Regions from separate parts of the Homo sapiens genome. Here all the other regions are reported to be linked to region 3. The links are microRNA targets in miRTarBase. Many come from high-throughput screens and were not tested one by one. Region 3 holds a microRNA gene; each other region holds the end of a gene's coding sequence.
The links. Region 3 holds the annotated microRNA hsa-miR-26a-5p (UUCAAGUAAUCCAGGAUAGGCU, at 2,126-2,147, shown strand). A microRNA usually pairs through its seed, bases 2 to 8, with sites in the 3' UTR of a target mRNA and lowers its output. Matches are read on the target gene's strand: a 7mer-m8 pairs with bases 2 to 8, a 7mer-A1 pairs with bases 2 to 7 and ends in A, and an 8mer does both.

Region 1 (3,172 bases), not on the chromosome of region 3:
ACTGGCCTCGACTGAGCTGCCAAGTATTTCATACATGGGGAGGGGGGTTGGGGGGGGGGAGGGTAGGGGGATCACACAGGTGCCAGGCAATGAGTAAGATTATCCCAGCAACTTCTCCATGCAGAGAGAAATGTCTGCAGCTGCAACACTATTTCTACTCCAGCCTTCTAGACTCCATGTAGTTTGCCTTTGTTTGAATGTTTCTATTTATCTGAAATAACCAGAAATCATTTTTATTATTATATATTACTCCAGTTTATTAAATAAATGAAACAAGGCTTATGCCACATATTCCAACAATGTTTAAATAAAGAGCTTGAAATATAAAGGCTTATGAAAACTTCATACTCTTTATATAATGCATACTATTTCTAGCACATGAATAAATATAAAGGACAGGAGCCACTTTTTATATTATGAATCCACAACATTAAGCATCAATGATTACACAAATCCATAAGCACACAAACAAAAAAACCCATTGGTTATAAAAACTAGAATTCCTTTTGGCATATTTAAGAAAACCCAAAGGTGGGGAGGTACTTATAGCCAGAACCCTGACAACGAGGGGACCAAGTCTCCCAATTCCTTAAGTTGTTTCTTGGTTAGAAGCTTCAACAATTGCATTAACTCTTTCAAAAAAACAGAAAAAGCAGGTTAAGATCCTGTTCAATAAGGCACTTAATAAGTCTACACTGAAGAAATACTATGCTTTTATCTTAAATCGTGCTTAAGTTTTACCATGAGGTTTGAATTTCTTTCCACCTTGGTAGGAACATGTATGTAATTTGAATAAACTGGTAATAATACTGTCTGACATTCGCTCTTTACATGGTCATTAAAATGAATTTGCTTCTACTGTTTTAAAAATTGTATGCATATTTGAAAAAGTAAAATTTTTCTACATTAAAAAAAGAGCATTTCAAGAAAAGCAATCTTTAAACTCAAAGAACTCAAAAGTGAAAGCCTCTCTATAGAAAGTCTTTATAAAATCAATGGAATGTTTTGGAAAGAAGAAAAAATCCTAAGGTGTAGTTTAGAACAAGCAGCAAGGCCTGAATGAGCTCTGGGGTCCTCTGCTGCCCTCTAGGGTTGCCCAGGGAGAGCTGGACTTTCATCTGAGTCTCAGCAATTAACAGGTAACCCTACCCCACTGCACCCCGCCCCCGCCCCCACCTTCTGTTATCCTCTCTTTTTGATGACTTTGTCTTAGCTCTCACTTTTGGAAATAATATTCAAAGGGACCATTCATGCATAAGGAAGGCAAGGGAAAAATGCCTGCGAGGAAAAATTATCTCATCCTCCAAAAAAACCTGCAGTCCTTCTATTCAGTCTCAACAAAGAGACTGGCCAGACTGGGAATTTGGCCGCACTACTGTGGAAGGAGAATGCCCTGGAGCCCCAGCTAACATGTATTTAATGTTGTTCTCAAAGGGGGAACTGAAGAGACCCAAATAAATATGTTCCCTGTCCTGTGGCTGCCTCCCAGAAGTGGAAGTTCTTGGGGTTCTCACAGTCATCTTTTATTTTGAAAAGACTAAGATGAAGACAAGAAGGAAGAGGGCTCTTTCTCTGAAGCAGGTTAGAGTAAAGAATAAGAAAATAGAAAAAGAAAAAAAGAAGAGGGAGAATGACTTATTGTGTCTACAGAAGGAAAGAAAAAGGGAAAATATTACATACCACCTATCAGAAACTAGCTAAATAGATGCACTAAAGAAATCATTTTTAAAATTTCAAGCAGGTATTTTCCATCCAAACTAAACAGAAAGTCCAAGACAGGCACAACATAAACTAAAGTAAAAACTGGAAACCTGGAAAAATCAACTCTTTGATTCACTACCAACATTTTGCTAAGGAAAATGTACTAAAGCCTGAACTTATACAGTGTTCTTTCTTCAACAAGACCTTAACAAAGGGCTTCATTCACAATTACCATGAGAAGCCCATGAGAACATGCCCCTCTTCTACATAGACTGTTTAGAGCTGTTCCACAGCATGATGTAAACACATTTACCTTTCCAGTCAAGTAGCAGCAGCTACTATTTGTTCTTCATTTGACCCTCTACATCAATAGACGTTATTATCCCCATTTTACTCATTGAGAAATACATATGCTTTGCTAAAAATCATAAAGCTAATTACTAACATGACCTAAGACAGAACCTAAGCTGCTTGAAAACACCCCCCACCAATACAGACCTTGCAACCTTCAAAGCCAACACATAACACCACCACGAATTTAGAGATTATTACTTTGTAACAATTTCTCACAAATGTCAAGTCTTCAAAGCTTAAAATCACTTATTATAAGTGGAAGATCCTGCCAAAATAGGAAATGATAAAGCAGTGTGATATTCCTAGGATCCATTTCCTGCACCGTTTATACCTGGGGTTGAACAGTCCAGGTCTCCATACATGAAATTTCTTCAGTTGACAAGGAGCAAAATCTCCCAGAAATTCAGAAACCATAACACCTTCTCGGAGGCTCCATTCCATGGTTCCAGTGAGCTTTTCTAGAGCAGTCTGATTCTCAGTCATGAGCTGAGATGCATCAGGAGCTACTCTCCCTGAATAAAACAATACATCGCTCCTGATTTTCTTGCAAGTTTTCTTTAGCAAGAAACATGCATTTCACATATTATCTTTGATGTTGAAGGGCACTTCAGTGGTAAAGACTAGTGTTTGGATGTTAGTTTATGCCATTAAACGTTTGATGAAGAGCATCCAATGCCAACACACAGCAATCTCAACTAACCCAGTCTTCATCTGTTGCTCACATCCCAGAATCTGTGATGAGCCAAGCAGTGAGAAGCAGAGTGAAACACAGGAAGCTTTGCTGTTTCAGAAGTTACCATTTTCAGAAAGATGTCTCATGCAGCCTTGGCTTGTCACAAATCCAATTTCTTCAACTGCTCGTATGTCACAAAGAACTGTGGTTATGGGTTAAGGATGACACAGAAAATGCCATCTTCACAACTCCAGTGCATAACAACAGACTTACAAATGGCACACTTAATAACAAATAGGTACAGGCAGACCCACGCTATGGACACGATTAAATAAAAGGGGTTCCACCCTTAACCACATCAAACTATCTTCCAAGGTCAGCTTGGAGCAGAAAGATCACAGCTGAGATATGTAAATCCCCTGGTATCAGCCTCTTCTGAGATGG
Region 2 (3,151 bases), not on the chromosome of region 3:
TCAACCTAAGTGTCCATCAATGGATGAATGGGTAAAGAAAATGTGGTATATATACACAATGGAATATTGTTCAGCCATAAAAGGAATGAAATTCTGTCATTCTCAGCAACATGGATGAAACTGGAGGTGATTGTGTTAACTGAACTAAGCCAAGCACAGAAAAGACAAATATTACATGTTCTCACTCACATGTGGGAGCTAAAAAAGTGGATCTCATGGAGATGGAGGTAGATTGGTGGTTACCAGAGGCCAGGAAAGGTGGTGGGGACGTGAGGATGAAGAGTTTGATTAGTGGACACAAATACAGAAGAAATAAGACCTATGATAGATCAGTAGAGTAACTATAGCTAATGTTAATCTATTGTACATTTCAAAATAGGTAAAAGAGAATAATTCAAATAATGTTCCTAGCATAAAGACAAGATAAATATTAAGGTGAAGGACATCCCAATAACTCTTGATTTAATATTTACACATTATATACATGTATTAAATTATCACTTGTACTCTGAAAATACATACATCTATTACACATCAATAAAAAAACTCATCCATTAAATTCTGTATTATCTTTGCAACTTTCCCGTAAATCTAAATCTATTTTCAAAAAGTTTATGAAAACTCATCCATGGGAATTTAAGGTGGCTGAAGATAGCTGAACACAGTGTAACAGGAAATAAAAACTTTTTAAAAATAGATCAACATGGCTGGGTGCGGTGGCTCACACCTGTAATCCCAGCACTTTGGGAGGCCGAGGTGGGTGGATCATTTGGGGTCAGGAGTTCGAGACCAGCCTGGCCAACATGGTGAAACCCCGTCTCTACTAAAAATACAAAAATTAGCCTGGCATGGTGGTGGGCACCTGTAAATCTCAACTACTCGGGAGGCTGAGGCAGGAGAATCGCTTGAACCCAGGAAACAGAGGTTGCAGTGAGCTAAGATCGCACCACTGCACTCCAGCCCAGGCGACAGAGCAAGACTTCATCTCAAAAAAAAAAAAAAAATAGATCAATACATGCACGGAAAAGGAAAAGGGTTGGAAGAAGGGGTAAGACTGATTCTATGTTAAGATAGTAGAGTTACAGTTTAATTCTTTTGTTTTTTATTTAAGAAAAATGTTTAAATAGGGGCCTTATGTTAGGCACGGTGGTTCATGCCTACAATCTCAGCACTCTGGCAGGCTGTGGTAAGAGAATCACTTGAGGCCAGTTCAAGACCAGCCTGGACAACATAGTGAGACTCCATCTGTATAAAAAATAATTAGCAAGGCATGGTGGAGCGTGCTGGTAGTCCCAGCTATTCAGGAGGCTGAGGTGGGAAGATCAGTTGAGCCTAGGAGGTCAAGGTGAGCTATTATCACACCACCACACTCCAGCCTGGGTGACAATAGAGACCCTGTCTATAAACAAACAAAAAAACACAAGGGACTTGTATGCATAATGAAAGTCTAGATTTTTCAGAGGCCATGATAAGTCACTACAGGGTTCTAAGCAGGAGTAATAGGGCCAGTTTACATTTTTAAGATTGCTCTGGCAGCAGTGTGGAGGGTGGTTGGAAGGGACAGTTAAGATGAGAAGAGACCACAGCAACAGTCCAGGAAGAACAGAGGATAAATGATGACTGTCTGGAACAGAGGGGAAATGACAGAAACAGAAGTAAGAAACTCTTTGGGATATGTAATTGGGGACCTCAGACACCTTCCCAGCTGCTAATGTTGTGTTCTGGGTAAGGCTGCCTATCTTTCAACCTAGACTGGTCAGTCAGTATGTCCCATTGTCTGATGTTTTTAGTGTGCAAAGAAGTCGATTAGGTCCCTAAGATCCCCCCAAATCCTACATACACAGTAGGAAGGTATTTTATAAAATCCTTTATTTTATGAGTGGCAATCGTCACCTCCCTACCCAACACATAAACACACATACCCATCTAGTCTTTGTTTTCATCACATTTCCCAAACTGATCGCATGTCAATGTGACTCACATAGAAAATAAACAAGAGGGGCCCATCACATACGCCAAGTTATCAATACTCCTTTCACCATTTCTGCTCAATCTAGAAGACTCAGCTTGGAATTATTTTAAGATTTTATGTTATTTGCAATATTATGGAAAAGTAAGTTACCGACATTCACAAGGTGATAAGCTGCAAAGAACAAGTTTGTTTTGTTTTCCTTTTTAAATTTAGAATCTTGTTTACAACACATTAGCATCATTAACAGAAAAACGACCATTTACATAGTAACTAAAAAACCAGCCACTTAAGAAAATAATGTAGTAATCAACCACTACCAGAGAAAATAGGTCCTCTCATTTGATTTTACTGGTAAGTCCAGCTGTTTTCTGAACTTTGTGAGAGTCTCTGTCCTGAATATGGCAAAGCATTCAAGTAAAAGGTAGGAAGTTATAAGTGTGAGATTCTGAGGGATTCTGTCTCAAAGAAGGTTCAGGAATAGCCACAGTCCTCCAGTTTACTCGAACGTTGAGATGTTCCTGTGATGACCAGCATAATTTCCTTTTGAGGAATTTTCACAATTCATCAGCCTCAGGATTCAGGTTTTATAAGACATTCTTCCACATTAAAAAAAAAAGACTCTGTCCCATAGAAATAAGTTTCTCATCGCTTCTCCAGCTTCTTGTACTTGGCTTCTGTGAGGGATGAGGGAGAGTTACATCTTTTAAAACTGGCTCTTACAAAGACAGTTTTTAGTTAGCATTTCCAGTCAAGTTTAAAAAATATGTATAATATTACTAAAAATCTATTAGCTTCAATCTCATCATCTGTCCAAATATACGGATCACTGATCTGTAAAACTTGGAATAAGAATTCAAGCACAGACACTCAGAACTGAGAGCCTAACACAGGTTCACGAAGTCCTCACCCTGTCAACAGCACCTACTTAGACAGCTCCACCAGGATGGGGCACATCTGTCACTTGACCTATCGGGAGCCTTACTAAAAAACTGCCTCTCTCAGCACTGTCCCAGGTGCCCTCTGGAACCAGACTGGAACCCTCAGGAAGTATAAATGTATGTTTCCTCCTGTATGTTCTTATCCTTACACCTTACTCCAGGAAAGCAATTTTGAAAGATACAGATATTTAAAAGGCCATCAAATAAGCCTCTTACTCTGACATTCCGTTTTTCTATTAAA
Region 3 (3,172 bases):
CTGTGTGTTCCACCAGGGCTGCTATCTCCAGTCACTCCCAACAGGCTGCATCTGCCCCCGAGCCACATAGCACAGAAAGCCAGCCACGAGGGCTCTGTACAGGGCAGGCCTAAAAGAGTGGTTGGATCACCTTTGGCCCTTGCCCCTGCTTGTCTCCTCAGGAAACTCAGGCCCCAAAACTCTCAGCCCAGGTAGAATTTGTCAGAGTGGAGGTGCTAAGGAGTAGGGAAAACCAGAATGGGGTATCACATCTTGAACTAGGGTGAGAACCCCTTAATGAGGTGGCCAGAGGCACTTCCAGGAGTCTTTAAGACCTGTTTCTCCCCACCCACCTAGGGGTATGGTGGGGGCCTCATGTTTCTTTGCCACCATGCTGACAGCATTAACTTTTCTGCCTTCCAGCCAATCAACAATGCTGACTTCATAGTGCCTATAGAGATTGAGGGGACCACTCACCAGGTGAGCTGCCAGCCAGACCACACCCAGCCCAGAGGGTGGGGGGTCTGCCTTCTGCCTCACCTGTACTGGGGTCCTCCACCCATCTCAGGGCTTGGGTTCTGTCAGTTGATCCCTTTTCTATAACTCCAGCCTCCCCTTTTTATTGGTATCTTTCACTCAAGGCTTTCTCACCTTAAAAAAAGAGTTTCAGCCCCATATCCCACCCAGCTGTCTCCCTTGTTTTCTCTTTGCAACCAAGCTGTTTAAAAGAATAGTTTACATTTTATTTAATAATAATAATAGCTATCGTTTGTTAACCACCATCCCCTCACGTGGCCAGCACTGTTAAATGATTTATTACATTTCTCTGTTCCTTAAGAAAGGTATCTATACCTGTTAAGATACCTTAACCAGGTATCTCTTTGCCTGTAACAGGCAGGGAAATCAGTAGTAACCATTTTCTCTGCCCGGAATGCCCTCTTGCCCATGCTCCCCCTGCCACCCCCACTGTGAATAGCTAGTGACTTTCTTCCTCCCCAGCCCAGACATCTCCTCCTCTGTGAAGCCTTCTCTGACTGCCTTCCCTGGGGCCCTCCATTGGATTCTGCCTGAGGAAGTGCTCAGTGTGTGTCTGTCAATGTAAAGAGCACTCAAATCTAAACAGACCAGGCTCCAGCCTGCAGCCCAGGCAGTCCCAGGTTAAGGATCATGTGACACTGCTAGTGAAAGACCATTTACTCAGCTTGCTTGCCCAGAAGGCCTGCCATGCCCAGCGCCAGGCCCCGGTCAGGACTAGGCTTGGTCCAGCAGCCCTTTGACAGTCTAGCTGAGGGTATAGGGATGTGCTAAACCCTTGTAGAAAAGATGAAGGCATATTTTCAAACAGATATACACTGTGAACTCCTGGCTAACAAGGAAGGGTATGAATAATTTTTAAAAGGATGAGATTAAAATGAGGGAGCACTACCTGCCCAAGGTGGGTGAAAGGATGCCAGACTTGATGAAAGCTGGGATGAGGAAGGGGCTTGTTGGAGGTCGAAGGAATGGCAGGCTAACAGAAGTTAAGTTGTGGCTGCCTAGAACAGAGGGTTCCTGCAGAGCTCTGAGTGGTCTGGTGAGTTGGTGGCCAGTTCAGGCCTACTCTAGGAGGGAGAGTCACAGCAGGCCGACTCTCTTTGAGCTCGGGAGTAATGCAGGTAAAGGAGCTTTGGGAGTCAGGTGCCGTGGCTTACACCTGTCATCCCAACACTCTGGGAGGCCAAGGCAGGAGGAATGCCTGAGCCCACAAGTTCACAACCAGCCTGGCCTCACATAGCAAGACCCCATCTCTAAAAAAAATAAGTAAATAAAGAAAAGAAAAAGGACCTTTTTGGAAATGGTTCTAGTAGCAGCTGTGTAGGCTAGAGTCATGGAAGCAATAGAATGCAGACCGATGGGGGGTCAGGTGGCCAAAGGACTTCCCAAAATGTGCAAGATCGTAAGGGTGGACAAAGGTGTTAGTGGTGGCTGGCAGAAGCAAGCACAAGATCGGGTGCAGAGCAAGACTCGGCAGGGTGTCTGTCTAGTCTATGGTCATTGAGGGGAAAAAGTCACTTCTCCCTGGTGCAATTCATTACCTAATCATGACCTGGACAGACTGTCCTGTCGGAGCCAAGGACAGAAAGCTCCCATAGAGGCTGTGGCTGGATTCAAGTAATCCAGGATAGGCTGTTTCCATCTGTGAGGCCTATTCTTGATTACTTGTTTCTGGAGGCAGCTGATGGTCCGCCGCCGGAAACAGAGATGGCTCCTGGGACATGGTGTGTGCGCTTCTTCCTGAGCCAGGTTGAGGTTGGGACCACTGATCCATTGGAAGCCTGGTGAGGGGTACAGCCAGTTCTCCGGGTCTGTGGGGTCTCAGGGGGCCGCAGGCTTCCAGCCAGGTAGCCCAGGAGGCTGGGCTGCAGGGGTTGAGAGCTCCTTGCTGCTGTGTAACTGGTGAAGGTACCCAGTACTGCAAACCTTCATCACAGGGATGCCTCCAACAGGCTGCTCTGCTCTTCCTCAGGTGTATGTGCTCAAGAGGCCTTATGTGGATGAGTTCCTGAGACGCATGGGGGAACTCTTTGAATGTGTTCTCTTCACTGCCAGCCTGGCCAAGGTACCTAGGGGTGAGAGGGAAGAACCAGGAGTGGGTGTGGTGGCCACGGGGGTGGTCCAGCAGCTCCCTTTTGGTCCCTAGGGTTATACAGGAGGACCAGGAGTGTATCCAAACTAAGGCATCTTCTCTCCTCCTAGTATGCCGACCCTGTGACAGACCTGCTGGACCGGTGTGGGGTGTTCCGGGCCCGCCTATTCCGTGAGTCTTGCGTGTTCCACCAGGGCTGCTACGTCAAGGACCTCAGCCGCCTGGGGAGGGACCTGAGAAAGACCCTCATCCTGGACAACTCGCCTGCTTCTTACATATTCCACCCCGAGAATGCAGTGAGTGCTCCTGATGCGTCTCCACGGTAGGGATTGGGAGAGGAAGCAGACTGGAACTGTGGGCTCCACCAGAGAAGTACACCCCTCCAGGAAGACCCAGCCACCCTCTAGGGCTCTGGGGCGAGGGAGGGGGAAGCAGCAGTCGGGAGATTGACACCACATCTTCCCCCCACCAGGTGCCTGTGCAGTCCTGGTTTGATGACATGGCAGACACTGAGTTGCTGAACCTGATCCCAATCTTTGAGGAGCTGAGCGGAGCAGAGGACGTCTA
Region 4 (3,172 bases), not on the chromosome of region 3:
ACACAAGCAATATATATATATACACACACACATACACAATATATATATATTTGTGTGTGTATATATTTGTATATATATATTTGTGTGTCTATATATACACACAAATGTAATACACAAATGTTGTATATATATATTTTTGTGTATATGTATATTTATGTGTGTATATGTATATATCACAGCACTTTTCAGAGCAATATAACAGAATCTACAACATAAACATTACAATGTTCAGGACACAATCTAAATCACTCAATATATGAGGGACCTCCCCCCAAAATCTGACCATTCTGTAAAGAGGAACAATGGAGACCAATTCTAAGATTATCCAGATGTCAAATTTACCAGAAAAGAATTTTAAAGCATAATTTAAACTCATTGAACATAGTTATGTGTTCTCTACTGAGAACACATAATTTTTTTATTTATGTGTTCTCTACTGAGAACAAATAATTTTTTTATTCACTATATAGTTATGTTCAATGTTTTGTTCGGTTATGTTCATAGTTATGTTCATCTGTTATGTTCAAGGTTCATAGTTTTATTCACTACATAGTTATGTTCAATGAAAACATGCATGTAGTGAATAAAAAAATCTCAGTAGAGAAATATAAAGAATTAGGGAGAAATTCTAGAACCAAATGATAAAATGTCAAAAATTAACTCTTCAGTTGAAGACTCCCTTTGGGAAATACTCCTTAATTTATTTCCTTCGTATCTCTGTTCTTTGGTCCTTTCACCCCTGGAACTCGGTCAATTTAGAAGGAAAAGAGACTAACTTAATTTACCTTTGGATCTTCTATAAGGGCACAAATCAGATCCACAGTTACTGATGTTCCAATGACATGTGAGATGCGAGTTGCAAAATAACTCATAATCAAAATTACCTCCGCTCAGTTGGAGATTGTTTCAAATGACTTTTATTTGTACCAAAACTAAATGGAAAATTGCTTGCTGACACTGTAGGAAGTTAATTTCTTTTTTCTTTGGGAGGCTTGACTTGAGAAAAAGAATTTAGTTAAGTTTGGTGGTGAAATTTTATATACAGTATTTTCATTTGGTGAAGATATGAAGGCCAGGACTAATAGCTCTTCTGCCTAGGATCCCTAATATTTCACACTAGGCCTGATAGTCGCTCCTACAGAGATGACATTTTTCTTTTAGAATGCAGTAACACCTACCAGGCCTCTGTAGGAGGCAGGCTACATACAATAAGGAAGTGTTTTTATGAGGAGAAAAATGATGCTCAGAGACAAAGCATCAAAGTCTTATTTTCTGAAGTGATTCTAACATGGAAGAATTTGGAAAAGATAATCCCAAGACTCAGTCCATTGTGAGTCTCCCATTGGTCCCGCTTCTCACTTGGTCACCAAGTTCTGCACACTATGAGACATATACTTCTGAAACAGCCAGCTTCCCAATCCCAAAGATACCTGGTACTCTCAAAAGCAGGGCATGATAGGCTAGGGCAGAAATTGGTTCCTGGATAAAACAGGACCCTACTCACAAAAAGCGATAATAAATACATTAAGAAAGACTACCAAACAAACCTGAAATGGTTTTAGAAATGGAGGTGATAGCTTCTCTGGGAGCAAGGAGTTATGATTATTTCACTCAATTAAAACAATGTCCAAAATATGAGAATGAAAGCTCCCAAACAGTGTTCTTAGCAATTTTGTAATGTGTACCAATGAAAATTGGTTTTCAGTATTAAAATGGACCAATGTCTCTGAGTTAAGAATTAGTTACTATATCAGAAACAGGAAAAAAAACAAAGTAAATAAGCTGAAAAACTAAAAAGCTCCTCTTTTTATCACAGTTCTTCCACATAAGGCTGATCAACATATCATCCAATGATATAAAATTCTAGAAACTTTACAAAATTCCTTTTTAAAATTTATTTTTTGTTATCAAAGAGAATGTCCAGAAACATTGAGTACTAAAGAATTTGTTCATGGCATTGTTTTACAAAATTTTCTAATGGAGAGTGAATATTTTATTTTCTGATGTATTCTTCACTTATTAATGATGAGGTCAATGAACTGATGCAATTATTTAAAAAAAAAAAAACAGACAACCTTATAAAGGAAAAAACAAAAACAAAAACAAAAAAAAACCAAACGTCCATTCTCATTCTGAATCTGTTGACTGGAGTGAATTCAGTGGTCACAATACCACCATCAAATAAGAATCAACTTCCTCAGAGTAAGGAGCTGTTCCGATCTTCTCAATAGTTCACACAGGTCTCTCAGATATAGGCACCATGTTTTAAGTCTCACACAAAATGTCTGTGTCACTTAAATTACACAATATGGCAGTGTTTGTCTTATGGGGACATACTGAAAGGGGCAAAGTAGAAAACAACCTGTTTGCATGTTATATGTGAGTACATTATTGTACTGTGCATGGGTATGAGGGCATTGCAGCCCTTGTTAAAGAGGAATTCCACCAATTGAAGCCTATGTCAGTTCCCAGCTGCTCTTGGTGCTGAGAGTATCTACTCATATAACCTTATTTTGTTAGATCAGAGCCCTCTTCATCTACAGTTTGGCTGAAATGGTTTGAACTGAGTTTGGTCGAACTGAGTTTGGTCGTTTATCTCTTCCATCTGAGCTTTATTTCTCAGCCTCAGGATATGTGGGGTACTTGACCGTTTCTATCTTCTCTCGAACTTTGTAGGAGGGATATAGGCCCGTCCTTCCCAATTTCCTGTTGACACCTTTAGAATAGCCATCCCAATGATTTCCAGCCACACCAATGATATCTCCAGGTTCCATGGGAATTTCATCTGCAGTTCGGGGTTGGTGAGCATAAATGGCAATTTGATTGTGGGCATTCTGGCCCCCAAAATAGTAGATGTCATCTAAAGAATGGAAGTTTGCAGAGGCATCAGGATGTAGTGTTTGCATAATTTCATAAGCAACTCGACAGACCTTGGGAAAGAATTTAAAAGAAATTGTTAGTATATAAACACTCTCCTTCACAGCAATCTAAAAGCCCTTGGCCAAAAGGATGGGCTCTAGGAGTAAGAGGTTGAAAAGTAGTGGATTCTAGTCACAAGCTTTCAGTCCATTTGTTCTCAGAAGATGGTACAAGTCATTCTTCATCTCTGTGTCTGGATCCTTTTTCAAATAAAGAAGAAAAACTCACGAAAGATTATTACAATTAAAATCTC

Region 1: miRTarBase lists SLC25A30 as a target of hsa-miR-26a-5p. Seed matches in the 3' UTR shown: 7mer-m8 at 2,023-2,029.
Region 2: miRTarBase lists BLOC1S2 as a target of hsa-miR-26a-5p. Seed matches in the 3' UTR shown: 8mer at 2,382-2,389.
Region 4: the mRNA of FUT8 is a reported target of hsa-miR-26a-5p. The part of its 3' UTR that is shown has no 7-base or 8-base seed match.

The regions. Positions count from the first base shown.
Region 1 is chr13:45,393,086-45,396,257 of GRCh38, forward strand. SLC25A30 (solute carrier family 25 member 30) reads right to left here. Exons shown (of 10, transcript NM_001010875.4): 10 at 231-2,930. The coding sequence ends at 2,889. Among named protein-coding and RNA genes, the nearest start is that of SLC25A30-AS1, 23 kb to the right of the region's middle.
Region 2 is chr10:100,272,848-100,275,998 of GRCh38, forward strand. It overlaps BLOC1S2 (biogenesis of lysosomal organelles complex 1 subunit 2), which reads right to left. Exons shown (of 5, transcript NM_173809.5): 5 at 446-2,646. The coding sequence ends at 2,615. Among named protein-coding and RNA genes, the nearest start is that of CWF19L1, 6.8 kb to the left of the region's middle.
Region 3 is chr12:57,823,633-57,826,804 of GRCh38, reverse strand. MIR26A2 (microRNA 26a-2) reads left to right here and starts at 2,113; the gene lies at 2,113-2,196. It overlaps CTDSP2 (CTD small phosphatase 2), which reads left to right. Exons shown (of 8, transcript NM_005730.4): 5 at 403-459; 6 at 2,486-2,578; 7 at 2,716-2,901; 8 at 3,078-3,172.
Region 4 is chr14:65,741,851-65,745,022 of GRCh38, reverse strand. It overlaps FUT8 (fucosyltransferase 8), which reads right to left. Exons shown (of 11, transcript NM_001371533.1): 11 at 902-2,930. The coding sequence ends at 2,613. Among named protein-coding and RNA genes, the nearest start is that of MIR625, 270 kb to the right of the region's middle.